Regions from separate parts of the Homo sapiens genome. Here regions 1 and 2 are each linked to region 3. Evidence: fine-mapped expression QTL. A gene starts in region 3. Each other region holds a variant in brackets. All regions are shown on one strand. Distances are from middle to middle.

Evidence for each region.
Region 1: its variant is fine-mapped to the expression of GDAP1 in fetal neocortex (Walker 2019, PIP 0.95).
Region 2: its variant is fine-mapped to the expression of GDAP1 in blood mononuclear cells (TOPMed, PIP above 0.99).

What each region holds. Positions count from the first base shown.
Region 1 is chr8:74,457,329-74,465,517 of GRCh38, reverse strand. It overlaps a transcript of GDAP1 not described here. Among named protein-coding and RNA genes, the nearest start is that of MIR5681A, 87 kb to the left of the region's middle. The variant G/A (reference allele first, on the strand shown) is at 3,805.
Region 2 is chr8:74,293,206-74,301,394 of GRCh38, reverse strand. The region is part of intron 2 of JPH1 (junctophilin 1); the gene reads left to right. Among named protein-coding and RNA genes, the nearest start is that of JPH1, 24 kb to the left of the region's middle. RefSeq lists an enhancer at 1-327 and a silencer at 5,498-5,637. The variant G/T (reference allele first, on the strand shown) is at 3,405.
Region 3 is chr8:74,345,796-74,353,984 of GRCh38, reverse strand. GDAP1 (ganglioside induced differentiation associated protein 1) reads right to left here and starts at 3,582. Exons shown (of 6, transcript NM_018972.4): 1 at 3,407-3,582; 2 at 2,519-2,711. The coding sequence starts at 3,523. RefSeq lists an enhancer at 3,340-3,569.

The DNA of each region.
Region 1 (8,189 bases), 110 kb before region 3:
GAAGTGGAGAACCTATCAGGCTATCATCTAGTCCAGAGAACTTGGTGGCTTGAACTCTGTGGGGCAGTGGAGGTGGAAGGGAAGGGAGACCAGCAGTACTTTGTAGGTAAAATTTATAAGGCTTGGCGAGAGATTGCATGAAAGGGGTAAGGGAAGCAGGTGTATCAAGAATGACTCCTAAACTTCTGGCTTGAGCAAGTGGGTGCGCCTACCTGAAATAAAGATAGGGAGGAACTAGTTTCAGGCAGAATAGCACGGCTTAGGTTTATTTTTTTTTATTTTTATTTATTTATTTTTGGAGAGGAGTCTCGCTCTGTCACCCAGGCTGGAGTGCAAGTGGTGCTATCTCAGCTCACTGCAACCTCCGTCTCCCGGGTTTAAGCAATTCTCCTGCCTCAGCCTCCCAAGTAACTGGGACTACAGGAGCACGCTACCACGCCCAGCTAACTTGTTGTATTTTAGTAGAGGTGGGCTTTCACCATGTTGCCCAGGCTGGTCTCGAACTCCTGAGCTCAAGCAATCTACCCGCCTTGGCCTCCCAAAGTGCTAGGATTACAGGCATGAGCCACCATGCCTGGCCGACAGCTTAAGTTTAGATGTTTTAAATTTAAGATACTTATTTACAATTAAATTTAAAAGGTGATATCTTAAATTGTAAGTATCTTGGAAGATACTTACAATTTAAGATGACAGTAGGCAGGTATTTAGGTTTGAATATGAAATTAATATCCCTTTCCCTAAATATGGCATGACTGTCCATTCCCCCTCAGTCTTTGTCTGACGGAGTTATTCTTATCTCTAGCAATACTCTTAGCATATACAATCACATCCAGGCCCAACTCAAAGGCATCCTGCCAAGACAGCATATTAGGGGCTCCATCTGGAAGTGTGCACAAAATGTAGTATGCTGTTATAAAACCAGCATTCAGGGTGTCTAGATGGACGCAGGGACAACCATATGTTTTTCAGTTTCCACACTATTCCTTGAAAACAAACTTGCTTCATTGGGCTTTTGCCAGCCAGCCTTCCTAGCCCCTTCCAATTGCTCCTCCCTTAGGGTTGCACATTGTTCTTATTTCAATTGCTGTTGCTTAGGGTCTTACAGAAAACCAAGCAAACCACTAAAATATGACCCTGTTCCCCACTGACTTTGAATTTTACTGCAGCCTGGATCCCTCTGCTATAATGCTACAACTTATCAAGTCACCATGAATTGAAGTAGCTTAAATTAACCCGGAATTTGACACTCCCCTATTGGCACTGTATTTTGGACTGTCTGCCAACTATGAGTGCCAGTTTTTTCTACTTTGACTAATCATTCCACACTTTGGGGTTCTAGCATGCCTCACCCAAACCTGTTTTGTTGATAAAAGTCTCCATGTCTTTTCTCTTTCCTTCTGGAAACCCAGATTTGTCCTTTAAAATCCCACTCAGGCACCAGCAGCACCTTCATTTATTCTCTCTTGGGATGGTATTGTTAAACATATTAGAACTAAATATTTCCTCCACATTTCCTTTAGTTGTTTCATAGCATTTCTCTTGATATAGCAGGTACATACGTATTTATGGATTTTTTCCCTTTATGCTAGATATTTCAGTAATTTGGCCTCTACTAAATAAATCCCGCCATCATGTAGTCATTTGTATTGATTTGTGCTTATATACAGCCAACTCTATTTGCATAAATGACTACAATACACAGAAGTTTTGATTACTATTACAATTACTGAATTGCTTTCTTGTAATTGTGGTAGTAACCATTTTAAGGTTGATATTCCAATTTCTACATATGTTTAGTTTCTCTACCTATGTCTTACTTATTTCTATTAAATTAGACAGTTTCTCTCCAAAGCTACATATGTCTTACACTTATTTCTATTAAATTAGATGTGTGCTTATTAGACAGTTTAATAAAGCAGAGGAACAACCTCTGCTTTATTAAAACTTTCCATAGCAGAATGCACTTTCCTGCAGCAAGAATCCTTTGATCCACTTTGGACACATTCCAGCATATTGTGTAGCACCTCTGTTAAAATACTATTTTTGTTTTTTTTTTTGAGACAGGGTCTCGCTCTGTCACCCAAGCTGGAGTGCAGTGGTGTAATCATAGCTCACCGCAGCCTAGAACTCCCGGGCTCAAGCAGCAATCCTCATATATCACCCTTCTGAGTAGCTGGGACCACAAGTGCACAATACCACATCCCGCTAATTTATTTTTTTATTTTTTTAATACATATGGGGTCTCCCTATGTTCCTAAGGCTGGTCTCAAATTCCTAGGCTCAAGCAATCCTTCTACCATGGCCTCCCAAAGTGCTGGGATTATAGGCATAAGCCACCACACCTATCCTAAAATATTCTTGAAGTCATGCTTACTGTGCTACATCAATTTGTTTCAGCCCACAACTGAGGATCAATCTTAGAAATGTTATTTACTCATTTGCCGTAACTTATTGCCTTAATTACATATCACTTGCAATGTCATCCACCCTAAAGCTAAGCTTTCATGTACTGTCTGGTTCTTAGTTTATCAGAACACATTAATATCTATAAACTTTTCCCTTTGCACTTGATCTTTTAATAATTTGATCTCTTCTGAATGAAACAATTCATCAGGTTTTGTATTTGTATTGATTTCAACTTACGTCCTTGTCACTTCATCACTCAAATGCTTTCTAATCTACTAGATTCTTAAAGGCTTGTTTAAATGCTGGCATATCTTTTGAAATCATTCAAGTATAAAAAAAATTCTAGGATTCTCATTCCCAATTTTTGTTTTACCCTCTTCTTAGTGGTTTCTGTGTCAAACAGAAGCAAGAAGGATTAAGTTCCTTAAATTATTCCTAATTTCTATTCATTTTTCTAAAGAATATGTTAGTAACTCCTACAGGTCTCAATGTCTTGAAGTATTGACAGTTGATCATTAATGTCTATTTGGTAGGTACCATTTCTTCCCTACAGTGTATTTTTATAAAATTGCTTGCTTCTGCCCAATAGTCTCTAACTTACCATCAGCTGGAATGAACGATTTTTACCCTGTTCAACTCTACATGTCCCAAGGCACTAAGGAAAATAGGCTCTTCAAATGAAAACAGCTCAGACAATATTTGTTGAATTAAGTCATTAGATGTATTGAAGGAAATGCTCACAGGCCCAAGTCTCTTAAATTAATGCGAATAGCTCTTCTGTGGTAGCTCTCTGGTCCCTAAATTGATCTATTTTCTTAGTTTTCTATTATAGCTCCACTTAGAACACACAATCAATAAAAAATAAGTAGCCCAGCCCAGCCAGGAAGTACTTGACAAAAAATTAACTCTAGGCAAACAGAACTCAAGGAGTCACTATATATAGTTAAAATCACCTAGCCATATTCTTAACTCTTTTAAATCTTTATGTGTTAAAATAATAAAGTTTGTTTAGATACCATCTAACTGAAAGTTTGTTTTTATAAAATTCCATCTCTTAGTTCCATCTTTTTAAAAAAATTATTCAAGTTTTGATGTTTATTCTAAGACTCAGTGATACTATGATTTCATATACTTTTTATTGTTCATTTGCTGGAATAAAGAGAGGAAAATTTTATTCCTTAGGATGAAATGCTTTCTGCTGGAACAGAATTGTTTTTCTCATTCAAATCTTTCAGTGCTTTATGAGATTTAATGGCAATAAAATAGCTGCACCTGCATTTTTGTAGGAATGAAAAATACAAGTGAAACTGAACTGAGTTTGACCCATGGGGGTCAAACAGGAAAAATTCATTTGACACCATTAGCTTTGGGGTCCCATGTGAGCATGTAAAACACATT[G/A]TACTTCCCTGTCTGAGAGCATAATCAGAATCTATCCATACAATGCCAAACATGTGGAACATGAGCAACCCAATCAATTAGTCACCTAACATTTAGTCTGGATGATGCCAAACATCTGGATACTTGGAAATATCCAAATGAATGGGTGAACTTTTCACTTTTCTTCCGAATTTTTTTGGCAGCATATGAACACAGCCAAATGTGGGCACTTTGAATTGTGTTGTTATTTTTAGGCAACAGGTTCCAAAATCTCTTAAAAGACCTAGCTCCTCAATAGCCAAAGAAAATCTATTTACAATGCAGTCTTTCATGATTAATTTTGATAAAGAATTTATGTGTTAAAACTTACAATGGCAAAAATCAGGGTCATTAAATAATATGTATGTTTATTTAATAGGCTTTAGAGAGCAGAGCATTAATGTTCTGCTTTCCCGGGAAAGTATCTATATTAGGATAATCTGCTTAAGCTTATTATGTACCCCATTTTTAACTCAGCATGCTCCTGTGCCTATCCTCTAATCCTTTCCTTGCTGTCTCAGAGGTTTTTACAAGAGAAATGTGGGACAGATTTATGGCTAAGAGCAGAAAAATGAAGAGGGTAAGGGTGCAACGCCCAAAGGCCAAAGTGGGACAAAGCATTGGCAGTGGCCTCAGATGCAGACTGACATCCAAGTGCTGGCAGAAGATGTTCTGTAGGGAAAGCCCAAGAGGATAGAGAATACCCTCTCCCAATACAAGGACAAAGCCTTCAGGAATGTAGACCAACTCCAAGAAAGTGGGAAGAGAAAGCAAAAAGCCCAGGGTCTGTGACTGAACATTTTAACACTGCTATTCTAATTCTCTTCCTTTTTGTCTTCTCTTCTCCTCTTTCTCCTCCACCTGTTTATCTTCCTTCTCCTCCTCTCTCTCATTCTCTCTCTCTTTCTCTGTATATTCATGTCCCCAAACATAACAGGTCAACTCCACAAATAGAACCTTTTCTTAGGACCCTACCACTCTTCATAACCACCATTCCATAGCTCATTTCTTCCTGGATTAACTCCTCAGGCCCCTGCAGGAACTTCATTGCCTATCCACTGGGCCCTCCTTTACTCCCTGCAGGCCAGTTTCTGTTCCTGCTGTTCAGTATTAGATTTTCCATTAAGCTAAGGAAGCTTAAGCTTCAGGGGCCCTCCCATAAAGGAGTCTACTAGCTGAGGCCCTGGAAGTGGCCCTGGCAATGTGTTCACATAGACATATGTTTTAGTAAAATTGGCGACATGACATGAAGTTGCAGGGTCAGAAGTTGTATTGTAATAGAGCAACTGACACCAGAATTGTGTTGAAATGGAGGAGAATCAAGATTTGGAAGGTTCAGAGCCAGAAACTAATCAGTAGAAAGTTACAAATGGAACATTCCCTTCTCATTGATGCTTAGTCAAAATAAATTTCTCCTTTATCAACAAATGCTTGATCAACATGACACATACAATTTAAGGAACATTATGTATTTCTTCCTTTTAATGGAGATCATAATGAATGAAATTAATCAGAATCCCCATTCGTGGGGCACACATCTATAGCAGTGCAATGAATACTAATATGTCTGCTTGAATTAACATGTTTTATGCATCCCAAATTATTGGATAGTATCTCAGGATATCTGATGCACTTTATCCTTATTAAAGACTAGATGTTGTACTCAATGCTGCCCACAGATTGCCACCAACACAGATAAATTGCCTGAAGAAACAAGTATTCCAGTGACAAAGCTCCTGCACATATTGCATTAGGAAGTAATCCAGTGGTGGCATAAGAGTAATTTATTCAGAATTATGTTGCTGAATATAATGTGGTTGTAATTTTAAGTACATTTGAATAGCTCCTGCGCATGCCTTAATTTCAAATTAATTTTGTACATTTTCAGAATTATTCATATAAAACATCAAATATATTCTAAAGAAGTATCCCAGTGGAAGCCAAACCTGTTAACCAAAAGAAATAAAATTGGCAGAAACTTCAAAATGTCTTTAAAGTGGAAGACAATTGTACTTTTCAATGTATAATTTGTTATTCCTTTTCTCACTCAATAAATATTCATTTTATTCCTATTCTTTTGCTTAAAGTCCCTAAATAGTATTAGTTTCTGGTTCCACAAACCCTGATTCACCCTGACTTCACCATTGCATTAGCGTTTCACAAATTGAAGTGCCAGAAGCTTCTGCCTCAGAATCACCTGGAGTGCCTGTCAAAATGCAGAATCCCAGACAAAACACTAGATCTATAGAATTACTATCCACAGAGGTCGCTCTGGGACTTGCATTTTTAAAAAGGTCTGTGTGTCATTCTTATGCACACTCAAGATTGAGAGATGCTGCTCTTTTAAAATGTTTTCTCAAAAGTGTCTGATAATCTATATCCTGCCAGCTCCCTTTCTCTAGGTCTCATTCTCCTCATTATTTCCATTATATATGACACTGATGAAGCTCTCTTTTTTTGAAAAGTAGAGCTTGTTTGAGTTATTTCTGGTACTTCTCTGCTTTTGTTTTCTTACCTCTTTTGGGCTTCCACCCACCAAGTGTTGGCACAGCACACCAGGGTCTGATTGTACCCCTCCATTTTTATGAATATTTTCTTGCCCCATTAGTGAACCAATTCACTATCAGACCCAGTTATCACCTGTATAGTTTCCAAGGGCTGCGCAAACTAATTACCAGAAACAGGGTGAGTTAAAACCACCAAAATTTTTTCTCCCATAGTCTGGAGGCCAAAAATCTGAAATTGAAATATCAGCAGGGTGTCTGGAGGCTCAGTGAAGAGCGTGCTGCTGGCCTCTTTTCTATCTTCTGTGGCTGCCTCTCAAATCCCCACCTGGTGTGTGTGCCTCAATTTCTCTCTTCTTATAAGGACACAAGTCATATTGGACTGGGGGCCGCTCTAATCCAATATGACCTCACTACAATTGATTCATCTGCAAAGACTCTATCTCCAAATAAGGTTAAATTCACAGGGTCCAGGTAGATAAGAATTTTGAGGTGACACTATTTAACCTGGTATATCATCCCTGTGGAAATGGATCCTTACAACTTGAGAACTAGTCTTGAAATGCTCCAATATCCCACTAAACTCAAGAAGAAACAAACACAATTCATCAAAGTATCTTCTTCTTTCCATTTGCTATACAAAACCATTCTTGAGTTGTGGATGGACCTTGCACTGCTTCCTCATTTGGACCCTGTTTAACCCAGCATGGGCAGATCAAACCAGGACATTCATTCTACACTACTGAAGAAGTGTATCCATGTAAGTGGGCCATGGGCCAACAACTGTAAACATTGTCTTCATTTCACATGTGTCCTTTATAATGACCTCACAAACTTAGAATGAGTGGTGTCTTGGGACAATCTGGTCATGGTCATTTACTCATAGCTTAAAGAAAATTAATATTTCCTTGTTATATTAATTTATATATATTAATATTTAATATTTCCATGTTATAAAATAATCTTCATTGGGGATTAAACTGCTAAAGTATAGGTATTCATTTGAATTCACCATCTCAATAAAGTTTGCAATGAGTTAATAAAATTCTTTAAGAATAGGAGCACACCATGTCAATATTGTATTTATTATATCCCCTCAAAACTGTAGGGATGACTTCAACTCTATGTTTTAGGGGTAATGATAGCAACTCATTTAGGGACGGTGAACAGTTATTCTTAAAAACTACAAATGGATGTTATCATTTGAAGAAAGAATTATCATAAGTCATATAAGTAGTACACTACTTCCAAGGACTATGATGGACTTTACTGATAATATCATGGTAATCATAATTACATGTTTGGAAAAATAAATATGAAGAGACTAACAGTTTAAGAGATTTGCCTCTGATCACTGAGTCATAGTGTCTTGTAGCTTAAACACTACTCAAAGTGAATCTGGGTGATTGTGGTCATTCTCTAAACATTTTTGTCAATTGCCAAGTAGCTGAAATTTTCTCTAAGTCTTCTTTGGAAAAAGGGACAAAATAAAAATCTCTATGAAATTCTTTAAATGTTCTTCGTTTAAAAAAATAGATGTTTAACATGTTGAACAAGCAGAATATTATAACTACTTCCTTTACATCTGTTGAAATCAATGTTTATTCCGCCTGAACAAATTGTTTAATGTGATAAATAGTTTGAAACAATCTGATAACATTCTGAAATCATTTTTTCCTTCTCTCCATAGAAACAGGAGGAAATAATTTTAAAGGGAAACTGGAAGTATCCAAGGTTGCATGGCTGAATTTTAGTTCAAAATTCAAAATACTCTGGCCCTTAATTTTGTTGTTGAATAAGTGTCCCTCATAAAGGATTCTATATCTAAGTAGCAATATTCCAAGCAATTACACAGAGTTACAA
Region 2 (8,189 bases), 53 kb after region 3:
GGCACACTAAAATTTGGAAAGTGCATCGGGAGGATATGATAAGAAACAAAATTCCCAAGGTTTGGGAGCTGCATTTTCTGCTTTTGGCTTTGGGGAGTCTTCAAAGGCATTTGAGAAGGGAGCCATCTGCCTTTGAATGGATGGTCTGCCTGCTTCATGGAGAAAGAATTTAAGTGGGGCCAGGACCGGAGGCCTGGTCTGTGGAGGAGGTGATAAAAGACCCTGGTTGAGGGCAGGGTGGCAGAGACAAAAGGGATAAAATTAGCAGGACTTGATGGACTGCAAGTAGTGGGTTAGGAACAGAGGCAAGTCTGAGATGTTGTGTGGATGATACTCTAATACCCCTATTAAGGTTAATGAAAAAGGTTCATTCATTCCCAGTATATGGGTGATAAATTATTCAATTAGAAAATGTAGTGATTCATTCCCGGTATACGGCTGGTTGGGGAAATGGGGCGGGGGGCCAGTAAGGCTCCATCATTCATATGAAACAAGTACATATGAAACAAGTAATCTTTCTGGGTCTCTCTTTCTTATCAATGAAACGGGTGAGGAAGTGGAAAACTTGACCAGATTGTCACAGAAAACCTGAGTTTGGATCTCTACTCTTTTGTGAATTCCTCTCCTTTCGCCTGTTTTTGAACCTGACTTCACATAACAATACCAATGCTTCTTATAGAAATTATTCAGTTAGTAAATGTAGTGAGACAACATTGACATTTTACTTTTCCAACTCCAGATTTTTCCTCAATCAGAAGATGGTATAAAAGGGAAAATGTCATCCTGTATACTTCGGAACAAGATTATAGTTAGGACCCTCTAACCAAAATTAAAACCATTTTGAAGTAGCAGTAAACATTCCACGCACACAACTCACTTACCAGTTATTCTTGTTTATATCAGAAGTATTATCAATACTTACACACTTAGTACTGTGCTAGATGTGAATGGAGGAAAAAGCGTGGGCCTGACCCCCTCCGCCCCCCACAACGCACACACAAGCTTAGAGTCAATTAGAGAAAATGCATGTACATGGGAGGTAGTTAAAAAAATAACACGAAGCAATTCAGTCAGTCCCGTATTTGTTTATTAGTGCTCTGCCACATTCCATGAAGGTTTCATAGTTTATATAAACGTCAAAATGGCTAGTCTTCTAGGAATTAACAAAGGAGTGGATTGACTTGTTTATAAAGCAGTTCCAAAGACTTTTACTTGGCCTATAGCCTAGTGATATTTTGTTTTTGTTGTTTTTCATGGTACTGTGTGAATTTGACAGTAAAAGCATTTTGAAAAATTATTCTAACTCTTCGCTAGATCAGAGTAACTTTCAGCCCATTGTTGGAACTATGAAAATGTGATTCTAGAGTAAGTAGTCACTACTGTTTAATTCCGTAAGTGAAAACGAGGGCGAGAAGAACATATTGAAGGTTTTCTTTTCTTTTTTTCTTTAAACTTTTTAGTAATGAATCACTTTTGTGGTGTTAAAAGTTCAGCTACAAAACTTTATTGTTTAAAAGTTTTCTTTAAATTACAGTTGCTATATTTGTAACAGTTAAAGATGTGCCACTGTATTCAGCACCCAATGACAACATGTTAAAGATACTTCAAGGGAAATAGAAGGCATACACCAACAAAGGGAAAAAACAAAACAAGCCTCAGACAGGCACCCCGCTCCCCATAAACAGTGTCTATGTAAATATGCATATGTGGCTGTGGTTAAAAGAAAAACTTTAGCCAAATTTAACAGAGTTTAATTGAGCAAAGAACAATTCGCACATCAGGCAGCCACCCGAGCCAGAGTGGGTACAGAGATTCCAGTGCAGCTGTGTAGTTGAAGAAGGGTTATAGACAGAAGAAGGAAAGTGAGGTACAGAAACAGCTGATTGGCTACAGCTCGTCATTTGCCTTATTTGAACACGGCTCGAATCGTTGACCCCCTTTGATTGGCCCAAAACTCAGTGATTGACACAAGAGTAAGCTACAATCTGTATACAACTCCATTTAGGTTATAGTTCGTGGTGTGCAGAGAAACCTTTAGGCTGAATGTAAAATATGTAAGGAGGCAGCTTTAGGCTACACTTAACACCCTAAAGAAATACTGAATAATGAGAAAAAGGGAGAAATATTAGAAAGACGAGGTGAATAAAGAAGGTCCCGGTATGATTAGTGTGTCTGGTGCCAGGAAGAGTTGCTCTGGAATGACTTCGTAAAGAAGTTGGTCCTTCGGCAACATTTTAAAGGGAAGCTAAGGGAAGATTTGTTCACAGTGGATCGAAATTTTACCAGGTGGGAGAAGACCCCATCTAATGATGTACAGCCCGAGGAGAAAAAAACCCCCTCAAAGGCAGTAAAGGTCACCAGTGTTCATTATTTGTGGGCAGTGTCGTCTTCGTGGCTTTTTGTAATAGGTCTTAATTTTAGCTTCATAGCCTGTTTAATCTTCTCCTGATATTCTGGGTTGATGTTTCGTAATGGCTCCCATTGCCAGTAGTAGAACCTGAAAACAAGGATCTTTCATATGCACACAGGTCTCTCGTGCCTTCATTCTACCACCAGGAAAAACATCCAGAAAGGTAATAAATTTGTGGAGAACAGCAGTGGTATGACTACTCATATTTCTGAAAATGAATGCTGTTGTAGGAAAGTTAGGAAAGTGGTGGAGATATTAGCTACAGCCCTACTGTCAGATTTGTACCCTGTAGCTTCATCCTCTTTTGAAAAGTCTTACAACAAACCCACCTGGATTTTGCGTTGCAGTGCCGTCGAGTACAGCTGAGTCATGGCAAGAGAAGAGGACAATTAGATAAGGGGTGCCTGACTATTAAAGGATCTGAAAAGCACTAACCAGGGTATTATGCAACACACAAGTGGAAACCGTTTCAGAGTGCCGAGGAAGTTATTAACAGGAGCAAAACAACATGTGAGGAGAGTGATTTTAGCTACAGTGCTCAAGGTAGATTGCAAGCAGCAGAAGTTGGGGATGAGATCATAAAGGACATGAATAAATGCATCTAGGCAATAAAGAACTGCACCCTTGAAATTTGTAAAGGAAAACCCATCTTGTATACAACAACCAGCTGTATACAAGGGAGTTAACGTTCTAAGGATGTGAGTACAATTAGCTAAGAGCATAAGTGGCACCATAAAGGCTGATGGAGACATTATGGGGAGAAAGATAGTGAATCTGATGTGTGGACATTCAAGGTGATAGATAAAAAGATAACATGAGTTTCAAGTAAGAACAGTACTTTGAAGCCTTGAGCACTTAGCAGCTTCCCGAGGATATGAATACATCAAAATTGGAGATTGGCACTGGCATTTATAACAGCAATTATTAGGAAAGTGAGTAGAGGGGGCTGGAATAGAGAAATCTCTAAAGAAGAGGCAGAGATGATGACCTGTGT[G/T]TGGAAAGAAGCAGAGAATTATTTTTGTGCTACTATTAAGACAAAATGCTAGACAAGGTTCAATTGTTGTTATAAATGTAATTTCTCTATATAATTTCATCATCTAAAATCAAATTAGCAAGTACTTTTTATTTAAGGGGTAATAAGAGTAGTCATCACACTATCTAGATAGCCACACACTATCAAAGCTTTAACTCTTCATGTTGACTCTGACTACGTTTATATAAAAGAATGAAATTCACATCTATAACTTTCTTTGCCTTAGAAAAGGCATTTTCCAGTTTTTATTAGTTGTGTGCAAAATGGAGCAAAAGAATGAGCACATGGCTGACATGAAGATATTTGTCTTACCAGTTAAGCAGTGTGAAAACTTTGCAATGACTAATTTCAGGCCCCAAATGCAGTGGTCTGGGGCTGTACCTCTGGGAGGACATTACTAGGCATTTTAACTGCATGGAGTCGGTAGGGCAAAGAACAGTGAGTGAGTTAAGAGTCCCGCGAAGCACACTTGGATGCAGCTTGAGAACAAGAGCAAGGGGAGCTGAGGGTCTGTTTTGTGTTATGTTCTGTGGTACCATCTGTATCTTTATGTTCCTTGGTCCCTGCTGGAACTTGTCACATGTTTACTCTGTTTGACGTCCCTCTCTGGTTTGTAATAGAGAATCTACATAGTCTCCAAAGCTGGTCGGGAGTGCAGTCCAGCTGCAAATCTTTGGTGATGGCAAGTCCCTGCTTGAGAGGACTCCTTGCCCGTCGGAGTCTGATCAACCCTGCTCCTGCAAAGAAACAGCCAGGTGTTGGGTGTGTTTGATGAAGTACAAGAGTCTCTGTTGGGCAGTCTGATTTTTCTGTTAAGAAAATACTAGTTATATGAATGTTCTGCTGTAGTCCACCAGCAGTTTTTTTTACTGTTCATCAAACATGAAAATATGTAAAGATAAAAATATTTTTACTAAATGATGAACAAATGAGTCAAAATATAAAATTGTTTATGTCCTGAACTCTTCAGGTATCAATTTCTCCTGCAAAATCATAGCTTGCATTGGCTTATGCCTTATACTTTCTGTCTATACGTGGACTTCGAGTTAGCCAGAGATGTAAAAGTTTTAAGTTTTCAAGCCATGGAGGTTAAGAAGGGATTTCTTGGATATATTTATTAGCTTGATTTAATAATTCTGCAGTGTATCCATATATCAAAGCATCACGTTATACGCTATAAATATATACAATATTTATTTGTCAATTATATCTTAAGTTGAGAAAGGGAAGAGGGATTTCTTGGTAGAAAAAAATGAAATTTTTAGGCAAGCTGATATATTTGCAGGCCCTGAATCAAGCAGCTATAAAGACCTTTAAGAATTTAAAATAGGCTTTGCATAACTGGATTTTCTCATGACATTTTGAAGAACTTTTTTCCTTTGAGTTTTCTGTTCCTCCTTTCCCCATTCATTGCATCACTATGATTAATATGATATTCTGCTCACTTAAATTCTAAATAACTTTTAGAAGCCTGAATAAATACTGAACTAGTGAACTTTAAAGCCAGATAGAGTTGCTATAAAATATTTTTCCCAATAGTTAAGCATAAATCTAAAGCAAGTTAGGATCATTTTTAATGAGAACTAACTTTGGGTTTGTACCCAGAATAAAATGTTTGCTTATACCACTCTGGGAAAGAAAGCGATAATTATGAATAGGTCATTTTTAGATGTCAGTGGCTTACTTTATGCTTATTAGTATATACTATATAGCTAATAAAAATAACTCTGTTTTCTATACCTTGCACGGGACCCAGCACAGTTACCAAGACATTATAGGCACTCCAAATACTTGGTTTTGATTTATCTCCTTTGAGTTAATATTCTTCCTTGGAGATTTAGAATAGGCAGTATTAGGCTAAGATTTAATCGGGTTTCTGATAGTTCATCTATTAGCCCAATACTCCGTGTGTGTGTGTGTGTGTGTGTGTGTCCTTACTGAGATTGCTACATACCAGGTTGTTCCCTTTCGTGGAAATGGTGATTATTCGTAACTGAAAGTCCTTTGTGGTTAGTGATAGTGATTTCACAGGACTCGGGTAAAACACACACGCAACGCCTGAGTGGTTTGAGCTAAAACCAATGAGTTGCAGTTTTGGAGGTTTTCTTGACTCATGACCTGGGGACTGTACCCACTCCTTGAACAGGTTTCAGATCAAGGCCTAGGAGCAAGAACCCGAGAGACCCATCTGCAGGCAAGCTGCAAGAGAATATCCTGCTTTTCCTCAGGATACTAGCCCTGCCCTCTGTTTAGGGCCAAGAATGCCAGAAAGACTCTGGGACCTTATTAAACTGAGCTGAGGGGGGAGATTTTATTCAAGTGTTGTCTATGAGATCTGTTAAGCCTTAGATTTCTTACCCAGAAAATGGGATGATTTGGTACTCAGCTCACAGGAGTTTAGGAGAATTAAATGAGATCAAGTATATGTGAGTGCCCTTGGCACAGTGAGTAGCACTTAGTAGGTGCTAAATAAACTGTTACAGCCAACAATTGTTAAATATTTTCATGCCAAGTATTGTGAAAAGACAGTGTTCGTCCTCAGAGTGTTCTGGGCTGAGAAATTGAGAAAGCCAGCGTATAATATATGAGGTGATGAGAGCTGTGATATAGCAAAGAACTATATGTACACACATATAGAACTATATACACACACACACATATAGTCACATGGGTGACTATATCATCAATGTATACATGAGCCCAGCAGAGGGTCCCTAATCACTTAGAGGAACCAAGAGACCTTCTAGAGACTTGAGTCTTGAGCAGGGCCTGAAGGAAACCAGTAGGAGTTTCTAGAAATAGAAAGGGGAGAAAAGCTTTCCAAGCAGAGGGACCTGCAAGGGCAAAAGCATGGAGGATTAGGAGCTCTCATTTGTTTCTTCCCTGCTAAAGTGCTATTGTCATTCAAACTTATGTAGGTCCAGGGCACAGAGAAGCAGCATGTGTGGTTAGTGGTAAAGCACACACTCTGTGCCACCAGACAGTCGTTTAGACCCTGGCCCTGCCAATGCTGTGAGTTGGGCAGATGGCCTAACTGTTCCACGTCTCAGGCTCCCTCATCAGCAAAATGGGAAAAGAACAGCAATAGCTACTCAGAGGACCATTGTGAAAATTTAAAGAGTCAATAAATTTAAAGTAGAAAGTGGACACTAAATATTTCATGTTAGAGTAAATGTTGTGATCATTTGAACCAGCATTTTCCAAATGCCTGCTCTGTGTAAAGCAAGTACACATTTTGGTGCCTTGGGAGAAACCAAAATGAAAAAGATACGGACTCTATCCTTCAGGAAATTTATAACCAAGAGACAGATGAATATGTAAACAACTAGCAATGCAGCTTGAAGTTAAATAATAGCTACGTGGAGGTTCAGACAATGTGTGGGAGCATCACCAAAAAAGAAATTTGTTCTGAGGAAGAGGAAGAATTCTTGTGAGAAGAGAGATTGTTGTAGAATTTGTGCCTAGTGCTCATTTTGACTTGCTTTGTCTTGGTAGTACGTGAATCAGGACAGGGACATCCGGGCCTGCTTTTGGCCCTGTTTCCTCACCGTGGCCGACTTTGTCTTGGCTTGTCTCTGGTCTACCTGGACAGTGTTCAAATGCTTCACTTAGAAATGAAGCTCGAGAGGTGAATAAGGTAGGTTTGATTTATCAGTTTTATTACTCAGCTGCTTGAGAGAAGTGCAGAAAGAGCAGGAGCTGAGGGCAGGTGGCACGTGGGGAACTTTATCTTCAATGAGAAGAAATCAGGCTACAGAGAAGTCCCCAGGCCCTAGCTGTAGAGCACATTCACATAATTGCCCTTGTGGCCATTCATGCTCCTGCCTCCCACATTCAGAGGAGTTCCCTCAGGTGTGCAGGATTTTCCCCCACCACCAGCCCCCAAGGACAGACCAGAGTGACGCCTGCATTGTGTTTTGGAAGTCGGGGCTGAGATGAAGGCAGCCCTTTCCTGCAGTGAAGGGGGACCCTGGTCTGCGCTCTACAAAAGAGACACCCCATGCCCAACCTAGGGGCTGCTGGCTCTTGAGTGGGAGGTTGGTGTCAATTGGCCCCCGGTGTCTTTGTCTTCCAAAAGTTGGGTCCAGACTATCCTATTTTTGCCAGAAATATCTCACAGGCAGTGGTCCAAGCCTGGCATAGTCTCATAGTTTCAGCTCTGATAAAGTGCCCTCCCCTCTTTATGGTCAGTCTGGTCCTGGAAGGAGAAGTGGTAAGTCAACTCTAATTCAGTTATGGTTGCCAGAAATCAAAGAAGTGAATGTGAGCTGCATCACCAAGTATTACAGAAGGCAGAAAAGGCAAAGCATGCCTATAAAATCTTTAACATGACAGCCTGGTTTTTACTCAGAGAAATTTAGGGAATTATTTTGAAATATTTCTGCATGATGGGGTAGTGGTTCGTTCAGCTGTGCAACTTGAGATCTTGGTTCTGTCACTTTAAGTGGCCTTGAGCAACCGGTTTCACCTCTCCAAGCCTTAGTTTCCCCATCTGTAAAATGGGCATGATAGTTAGTGGCACCTCCTCACAGGGTTAGAATGAGTGCTTAATGAATTGGTGTGTGTTAAGTGTTTGGAACGGTGCCCAACGCTAGTAAACTCTGTGCAGGTGGAGCTCTTACTCTTATGGGGTCACATCAAGAGATTTTTGGTGAATTTGTTTTCCTGCTGCCACACTGGGCCTATCCAAGGATATAATAGTGTCTTTGAGGCATTATCCAAGGCTTTTGTGAAATACAGGTCATA
Region 3 (8,189 bases):
CCTGGCACATAATAGACAGTTTTTTAGAAGTGTTAGGGACATTCTCCAGCAGTGTAAAACTTAAATTGGTTCCTTTCACTGAGATACACAAAAATTTTAACATATTTAAATAACTATTCACAATCTATTCTAAATTTCCACCAGATTTAAAGACAGTAATTTACACCAGTGCTTACTTAACTAAACACTAATTTATAGCAGTATTCTCAAACTTTAATGTACATACGAATCACATGGGGCTCTTGTTAAAACAAAGATTCTAATTTGATAGGTCTGCAGAGAGCTCTAAGGTTCTGCAGTTCTAACAAGCTCCCAGGTGACACCAATGCTGCTGATGAATGGAACATACAATTAGTAGCAAGGGTTGGTAGAATTCACTTTTCCCCGTCTTTGACAATAGGATGTTTGTCTATCTTGTCTGACTTTCATTCTCCATGAGTTCTTAAAGATAAAGCATCTTAATTATAATTGTGATAACGCTGTTTTTAAAATTTCAGTACTCTGAGATAAACTTCTTCTTGACCTCGATTTATATAACTTAGCCTTGATTTATATAAACTATTGTTCTCTTGCTGTCGTCCTATCTACCATAAGTTTTGGGTCCCTTAATCGTTTTTTCGTCCTTCCCAATTGATTGAAAGATATTCAACAAGTTAGTGGCAGCATCAGACTAAAAGCTAGGACTCTTGATTGCTGAGTTACAATAATAGTTCAACCAGAATTAAAGTCTGCACTTTCCATATTTCCATCCTGTCACAGCCTACAGTGCCTTCTCTTCTAATTCTTAAGTAATCAAAAGAACTTAGCATTTCCTTTGTTTGGTTATTTAAATACAACTTAGCAGGACACAGAACTTATTTCTGCTTTGTTACTATTCTGTACTAAAAGCAAAAGAGAAAGACTAAGGAAAATTGTAAGAAAACCTAATAATTGGTAACATTACTATGTTGTAAATATAATTTATATCACTGAATTTCTTAGAGGAAAAACAGTGTAAGGAGGGGATGGAGGAGGGGAATGATGATAGTAGAAGCAGTTCAGGCAATGCTACCAAAAAACTTAAATGGGATTTTCCATTTAGAATACCTTTTTAAAGTTTTTGATCATTTAAAATAGATTTATTAACACAATTATTTTGTTTTGTTCCATTATAATTACATCCCCCAAGAAATACAAATTAACACACTTATCCATTTCCAAAAAGCTCAAGATTGAGAAAAATTCTCTTAAATGAACTAGTTGTCATTTTCAGTACAGTCCCCAGCATATAAATTTATAAGGAATAGCAAATAAAGATGAAAAGAAAGTACATCATTAAATGCTTTGGTTTACGCTAAAGCTACCTTTAATTAAAACCGCCAATCACAATCCTAGGGGACTAGCACTTAGATTAAGAACAGGGGTAGCCCATTGCTAATCTAATTCCCTGGGCTTCCCCCTCGCCACTGCCCACCATCTAGGCCTAATAATACTCATTTTCCTTCTAAGTACATGAGACTTTTTTTTGTCCTAGTAATTTCCTTTGTCAGCTTCCTGTAGTTTGGGGCTAGGTTCTGCTTTCACCTACCCTATTAACATCAACATAACTGGTGGCAGATGAAAAGTAACAATCTCATACAGCCTTTTTAGAAGAGCATTCAGCTGGAAGCTCTGAGCACCATGTTCTGCTCTCATCAATGTCCATTGTGATCAGCTGTGTAGTCTTTGGTAACTCTTTGAAGCTACAGTTCACTTCAAAGGATTATTATTAGGAACAAGCAAGACAATGTGTAAGTGGCAAGGATTATGGGAGACAGTCAGTGTAGTATGAAGGCTTTGGAGACCAAAGACTCTGCCATACAATAGCTATATTACTTTGGGCAACCCTGTTGCTTTCTCCTCATTTACATAATGGGAATAACTTGTCTACCATGCCTGTCTCAGACAGATACTTTTGAAGACATTATTGAAGAAATTATAAAATGTCTGACACATAACAAGCTGTTAATAAATGATTTACCTAAATGCACTATACAAATTTAAGCCCTATAATTCCTTAGTAAAGATATAAAATTCAAACAATTCAGAAGTGACTGGGGCAAAGAACTCAGGTATACTAACATTCTATTCTCCTTTAAGATTTATTGCTCTTTTTTCCCTCTTGTTTTTAAGGTGAAACCATTTGGTATATTAGATGAAATCGTCACAGTGCACATTTAGAATATTATGAATTTAAGACTAAGAAATCACCAACACAAACCACACATTTGCAGTTTTTTGCAAGTGAATTTTTTTAAGTTTCAACATTAACATTTGTATTTTGCATTAAATTATTTTAAATAGCATTACACTAGCCTATACAAAATTTGTTATTGACCTATTTGATATTTGTGTGCTTATGGAAATGGAAAAGGTTTTTAATCCCAAACCACCATCATGACACAAGAGAAAGAGAGAGAGGAGAGAGAGAAAAAGAGAAAGGGAACACATAGTTGTGTTGAAAGTAAATCCAAGAAATCGCAAGTAGCCTTAACATTACCATCCAGGAAAGTCTGTTCAAGATAATCAATGATCTGAGTGGCCTCACAAATTATGTTTTCCCCGTGGATAAGGACAGGCACTTCTCCAGTTGAGTTCAAACGCATAAACCAAGGCTCATTGTGCTCACTCAAGGGCAGACTTACATCATGTTCCTCGCACTTCAATGCCTTTTCAGCAATTACCAAGCGCACCTGGAAGAGTTCACACTGGTTACTACAACACATGTAAGCTTTCAATTAAATGACTTCCCTGGACACCGCTAAGCAGCCTTTCTGGGCTTCCCTGTGTTACCGACATTTTCAACAGTCGTTTTAACAATTCCTATTCCTGGAATTAACAAGTAAGGAAAGAACAATACTCAACAAATTAAGAGAAGAACACAAAATAAGTAATGAAATGATTCTGACTGTATTCATTAAACAGTCACCCTCCTCATCACTACCACTTTCTCGGTGTCCTAAACCTGATTATGGGTCCTCCCCAGACAAGAACCTGACATGTAGGTACATCAGCTCTTGCTGAAGACAGTGAATGCGAGAGAGCAAAAGAAGAGATCGCAGATTATGAGGGTCCACAAAGGCACCTCCCTCTGCCTCTCTCCGAAGACCAGCAGGCAAGGCCTCCAGACCAAATACTGAAAATGATGCTTTTTTGTCGCATTTCGCGAGAGGCGGAGCCTGGGCCATAGCCACATAGGATCATCTCCGATCGATTCTCCCCGCTCCCCACCCGGGCGCGTCCCCGCCTGGAGGGAGCGCCTGCCCGGGGTCAGGACACTGGAGGCGGATTTCTAGGTGGACCGGCTTCCCTGGGCGGGACTCAGAAGGAGCTGTCCCAGTGCTGAAGCCCGATCCGCGCCACCCTCCGCCGCCAAGGCCTGTTGTACCTTTTGAGAGCTGAAGGAATGCGTCCAATGGTACAGAATGAGCTTAACCTCCGCGTCGGCCTTGCCTTCCGCCCTCAAGGGCGGGCTCCCTCTCTGCTCTTCCTGCCTCTCAGCCATCTTGGGGTGCGCGAGCACGGGTGCGCCCAGCCTGTCCGCCCTGGACTTCTCCCTCCCACACTGCCCCGCAAGGCGTTTCCGGGTTTTGAGGGGTACCTGCCGGAAGGAGGGCGCGCGGCCCGCTGGGAAATGTAGTTTCGCCGGCGGCAGAGTCTGCGAACACGCGGGGTCTGCGACTGGAAAGCCCCTGGCAAGCCTGGGAGTGCACCTGGGAGGTGCAATTGAACGGTTGTTTTTTGGGTTTGTTTTTTTTTTTAGAAGAAAAAATAAAAAATATGAGACCCTGGTTATGAAGGGCAGTAAGGAAGAATGATGATAGCAAATTACTCTTCGGTTTGGAGGTTGCTCAGGTATAAAAGCAGCAATTTCCCAAGATACTGAGGGTTGCTCTTGGAGCCTGTTCCTTTGTTGGAAAGGAAGTTCCGGTCGACAAGCAAAGCAACAGGAAAAGGATCTATGAGCTTTCATTAGAAGATGCTACTATGACATTAGTGGACTAATTCCACAAATTTGACTAACTGCTGTAGATTAGAGAATAGTCTTGTATAAACAGTAAGTACTTGATTTTGATAATTAAACTGTGCTTTGTAAAAGAAAAAAAAATACCACTATGGAGTCATGCAAAAAAACTGTTTTTGTCATAAACAGCTAATAAACAATGGCGATATAAAATAGCCTAGTTGTTAAACACAAAAATTCTACAACAGTACTGCCTAAGTTCATATCCTGGTTTTTCCATTTTCTAAGTAAGAATAATAATTTTATTGTTTCCCTCATAAGATTTTTGTGAAAAATTAATAATAAAATGTTAAACACTCAGAACACCCTGTCACGTTGTAGGCACTCAGTCTTAGTCACAGGTTCAGTTGTCTTATAAACATTCTGTTATAACCATAGTCAGAATCATAATTTTATATTAGTCTAGTTATTATTGTATGTCTTTAAAAATTTGGCATCATATAGTAAGTTGATTTTAAAAATCTCTTTCAGTAATATGTATAAATATGACCATAGAATAAATGCCTGTATAATTTATCTGGCAAATATTTATTGAGCACCTACACTGTTCCAGACATTGTGCTGGCTCCTGGTAATATAAAGATGTGTGAAATCTAATATCTAACACTCAAGATATAATCTGGCAGTAGAGACGACCAAGGAAATAGACAATCACAATAAAGATGAGAACTGTCTTAGGGTGAACACAGAGTACTATGAGAAAGGAGGGGCAGGCAGCCAACCCAGGTCAGAGAAGGGCCCCTGGAAAAGACAAAATCTCATGAGGTTCTTCCTTGCCTTTACAGTACTTCATTTGTTACTCTCTGTAATTCTTTCATAATTTTTTAAGATTTCATAATGTCTTTTATATCCTTCAGTTAATTCAAGTGCTATAGAAAAGGTGAATTCCTTGCCAAAATTGTTTTTATCAGTTCACACTTAAGAGTAAGAGCGGAAAGAGGAAAACTTTGAAATCGGACAGAGTGGGGTTTAAATTCTAGCTCTACCCTAACTTGAGCTTTCTTGAGCTTTGACTTCATTGTGTGTAAAAAATGGATACATAAAAATTATATGCCTACCCAGATGGCTGTGGGAATTCAAGAAAGGATATATATAAAGCACCTAGGGTATTGCCTGGAATGTAGCCATTGATAAAAACATATGTGTAAAAGCCCCTTCACTGACATTAGGAGGGCATTATATTACATTTCATCCTCTCTCTGTAGGTCTCAAAATTTTTACAACTACCCATATAATCCTCCTCTCCCATTCCTCTTCAGAACTTCATTTTTTAATTATCCACCTTCAGATTCCTAGTTTTCTATTCCATTACCTTCAATAGCAAACACCACGCTTACTTTTGCACCAACCTTAATACTAAATCATCCTAAATATTTGAATAAATTCCAGTACTCGTGATAAGCCATGTGTCACCTGCAGCTGAAAAAGTCCTGACAATAAAGCCCTGGTCCCTCAAACACAACACTTTTCTCCATCACATCCTGCCCACAGCAAAGCCATAGAAGAAACACTGAATGACTTGATTACTTGGTGTTTAGTACAAAGCATTCATAGATCTCATTGGGAGTGTAAACATGCACAGAACTTCTGAAGGCAAATGTATCAATATGCTTCAAGAATCGTGAAAATGGGCATAACTTCTAACCTAGAAATTCCTCTATTTGCAATTTAAGGAAATAATTCTGACAAATTCTGACAGTTGATCCTACCTATTTTTCCCTTCTTCCGTGGTAATAGAAATTTTAGCTGAGCACATGACTGCTGAGAATAAAGACTGTATTTCCTAGGCTCTATTGCAGCAAAACATGGTCTCCTAACTATCTTCTAACAAGGGGAAAGTCATGGATGTGCCACAGGGCAAGTGCTGGGAATCTTTCTTAAAGAGACAATTAGCCCTGTGCCTCTTCTTCATCCCATCCTCCATCCTGCTTCAGAGAGGATGGATTCTGACCTGGACCATGAAGAATGGGGCCACGCCTTAGGAACAGCTGGGCCATGAACTTGGGGAAAATTGAGCTTCTAAAGACACTGAGGAGCAGAACCCACACCAACTTGGGTCTGCAAACCTCCAAACTTTTACTTGAAAAGGAAAAAAAGGATCTTGTGTAAGGCACTGTTATTTGGTGCTTTCTGGATGCTATTGTCTTAACCTATCCTCATCAATACATCAATCTTGTAAAATATAGGTGGCTTTTATTTCTTTATGATTCTGTATACTCTAATTGTTTTATAATGAATGTGTGTTGCTTTTACCTGTTAAAGGTGTGAACACTAAAAGAATATCATTAAATAGATGACATAAGGAAAAATGTGTTTGTTTTATCACAATAGAACTGCTACATCTACTTCCAATGATCTATAATCACTTTTTTCCCATCCCAATAAAAGCCACTGTTGGTAATATAAAAACCTTATTATCCTTTCACATGTTTATTCAGAGCTCCTACTACACTGTGTATTCTGTGTCTATGGTTTTTGTAGATCATAGACATGATCATTGTGGGCTCCTTGAGGACAGGAGCCAGGTCCAGGTAAATTTGTTTTCAATATACATTTTTTGAGCCTTAAGTGCTAGATAGAGAAGATACAGAGTTCAAAGTCAGTCACAGTCACTGGCCTTAGGGAAATCAAGTGTGAAGGCAGAGAAATGAGATCCCAACACAGTGTGGTACTTGCTGTGACATCTAGAAAGTTATAGTAGGAATATAGAGAAAGGCACCTAACACAGATAGGCTTCCCAGAAGAGGTGATAATCTTTACCATAACTAGTACCATACTAACACAATTACCATTATATCCAGGGTGGTGCCCCCACTGGCTCATGATAGCTGATTGTTAAATTTTCAGGAATTTGCAAAGTGGATGTTCAACTCAGCTATTAATCAAAATTAAATCAAACTGAGTTGCATTTAAATGAATTATTTCCGCCGGGCACGGTGGCTCATGCCTGTAATCCCAGCACTTCAGGAGGCTGAGGTGGGCGGATCACGAGGTCAGGAGATCAAGACCATCCTGGCTAACACGGTGAAACCCTGTCTCTACTAAAAAATTAGCCAGGCGTGGTGGCGAGTGCCTGTAGTCCCAGCTACTCGGGAGGCTGAGGCAGGAGAGTGGTGTGAACCCGGGAGGCGCAGCTTACAGTAAGCCAAGATCACGCCACTGCACTCCAGCCTGGGCGACAGACTCCATCTCAAAAATAAATAAATAGATAAATAATTTTAAAAATAAAACTAGCAAATACTTAAAACTCATCACTTCCTAATTATGTGTATTATTATCTATACTCCTGAGTTTATTTGTGTCTATCATATCCATACAAGGCAAACAGTATATAAGGATGTGCTACTTGCATATCTCTTCCTCTCTGTTCAGTGATGTCATGTTAGTGACTTGAAATTGGCCATGGTAGAACTATTTACAGAAATCGGTAAATGCTATCATGTTTAACTTTTTCCCAGAAAGTTGGTTGTTAAATATTTACTACTATACCATTGAATGTATCTATCTTATTTAGTATTTAATAAATTGTTTTGATGAGGAGAAAGAGAACCCTGGGTAAATTTGTGAATGAGTAAATTTGCATACTAATTTGCTTTCGGTACCTTTTACTTTCCTAATCAGCTTTTGCTTCCTTCTCCATTTCCGAGACACCCACTATGCTTATTATTTTTTCATTCTCTTCACTATCCTTAGGAAGAACATGGATATGCACAGGTCAATCTGCCCACTATCAAACACTGAGCACTTTCTCTAGCACATATTCCCAGCAGCAAAACCATGAACTAGTAAACACTGATGAACTGATGACTGCACTGATGTTCAATATTAATACTTTATAAAGAAAAGGTATAAAGTAGAACGTCTGCATCTAAAGATCGCAAATGGCTTTCTTACAATCTCATTTGATCTTCATGATAGCCTGTGAGGTAGCTACCATCCCTAAATTAGAAGAGCTTCCACTACAGTTATAGCTAAAGAAATGAGGTTTAGTAAGTGAAATACTAGTCCAAAATCCTGGAGCCGGTGACAGAACTACATCTCAGACACACATTTTCTGATTACTAGTCAAGTATTAGCTTCTACTACACTATGCTAGCCTTAAACCAAAGAGAGAAAGTTGTGGACTTGCAAACTTTAACCAGCCTGA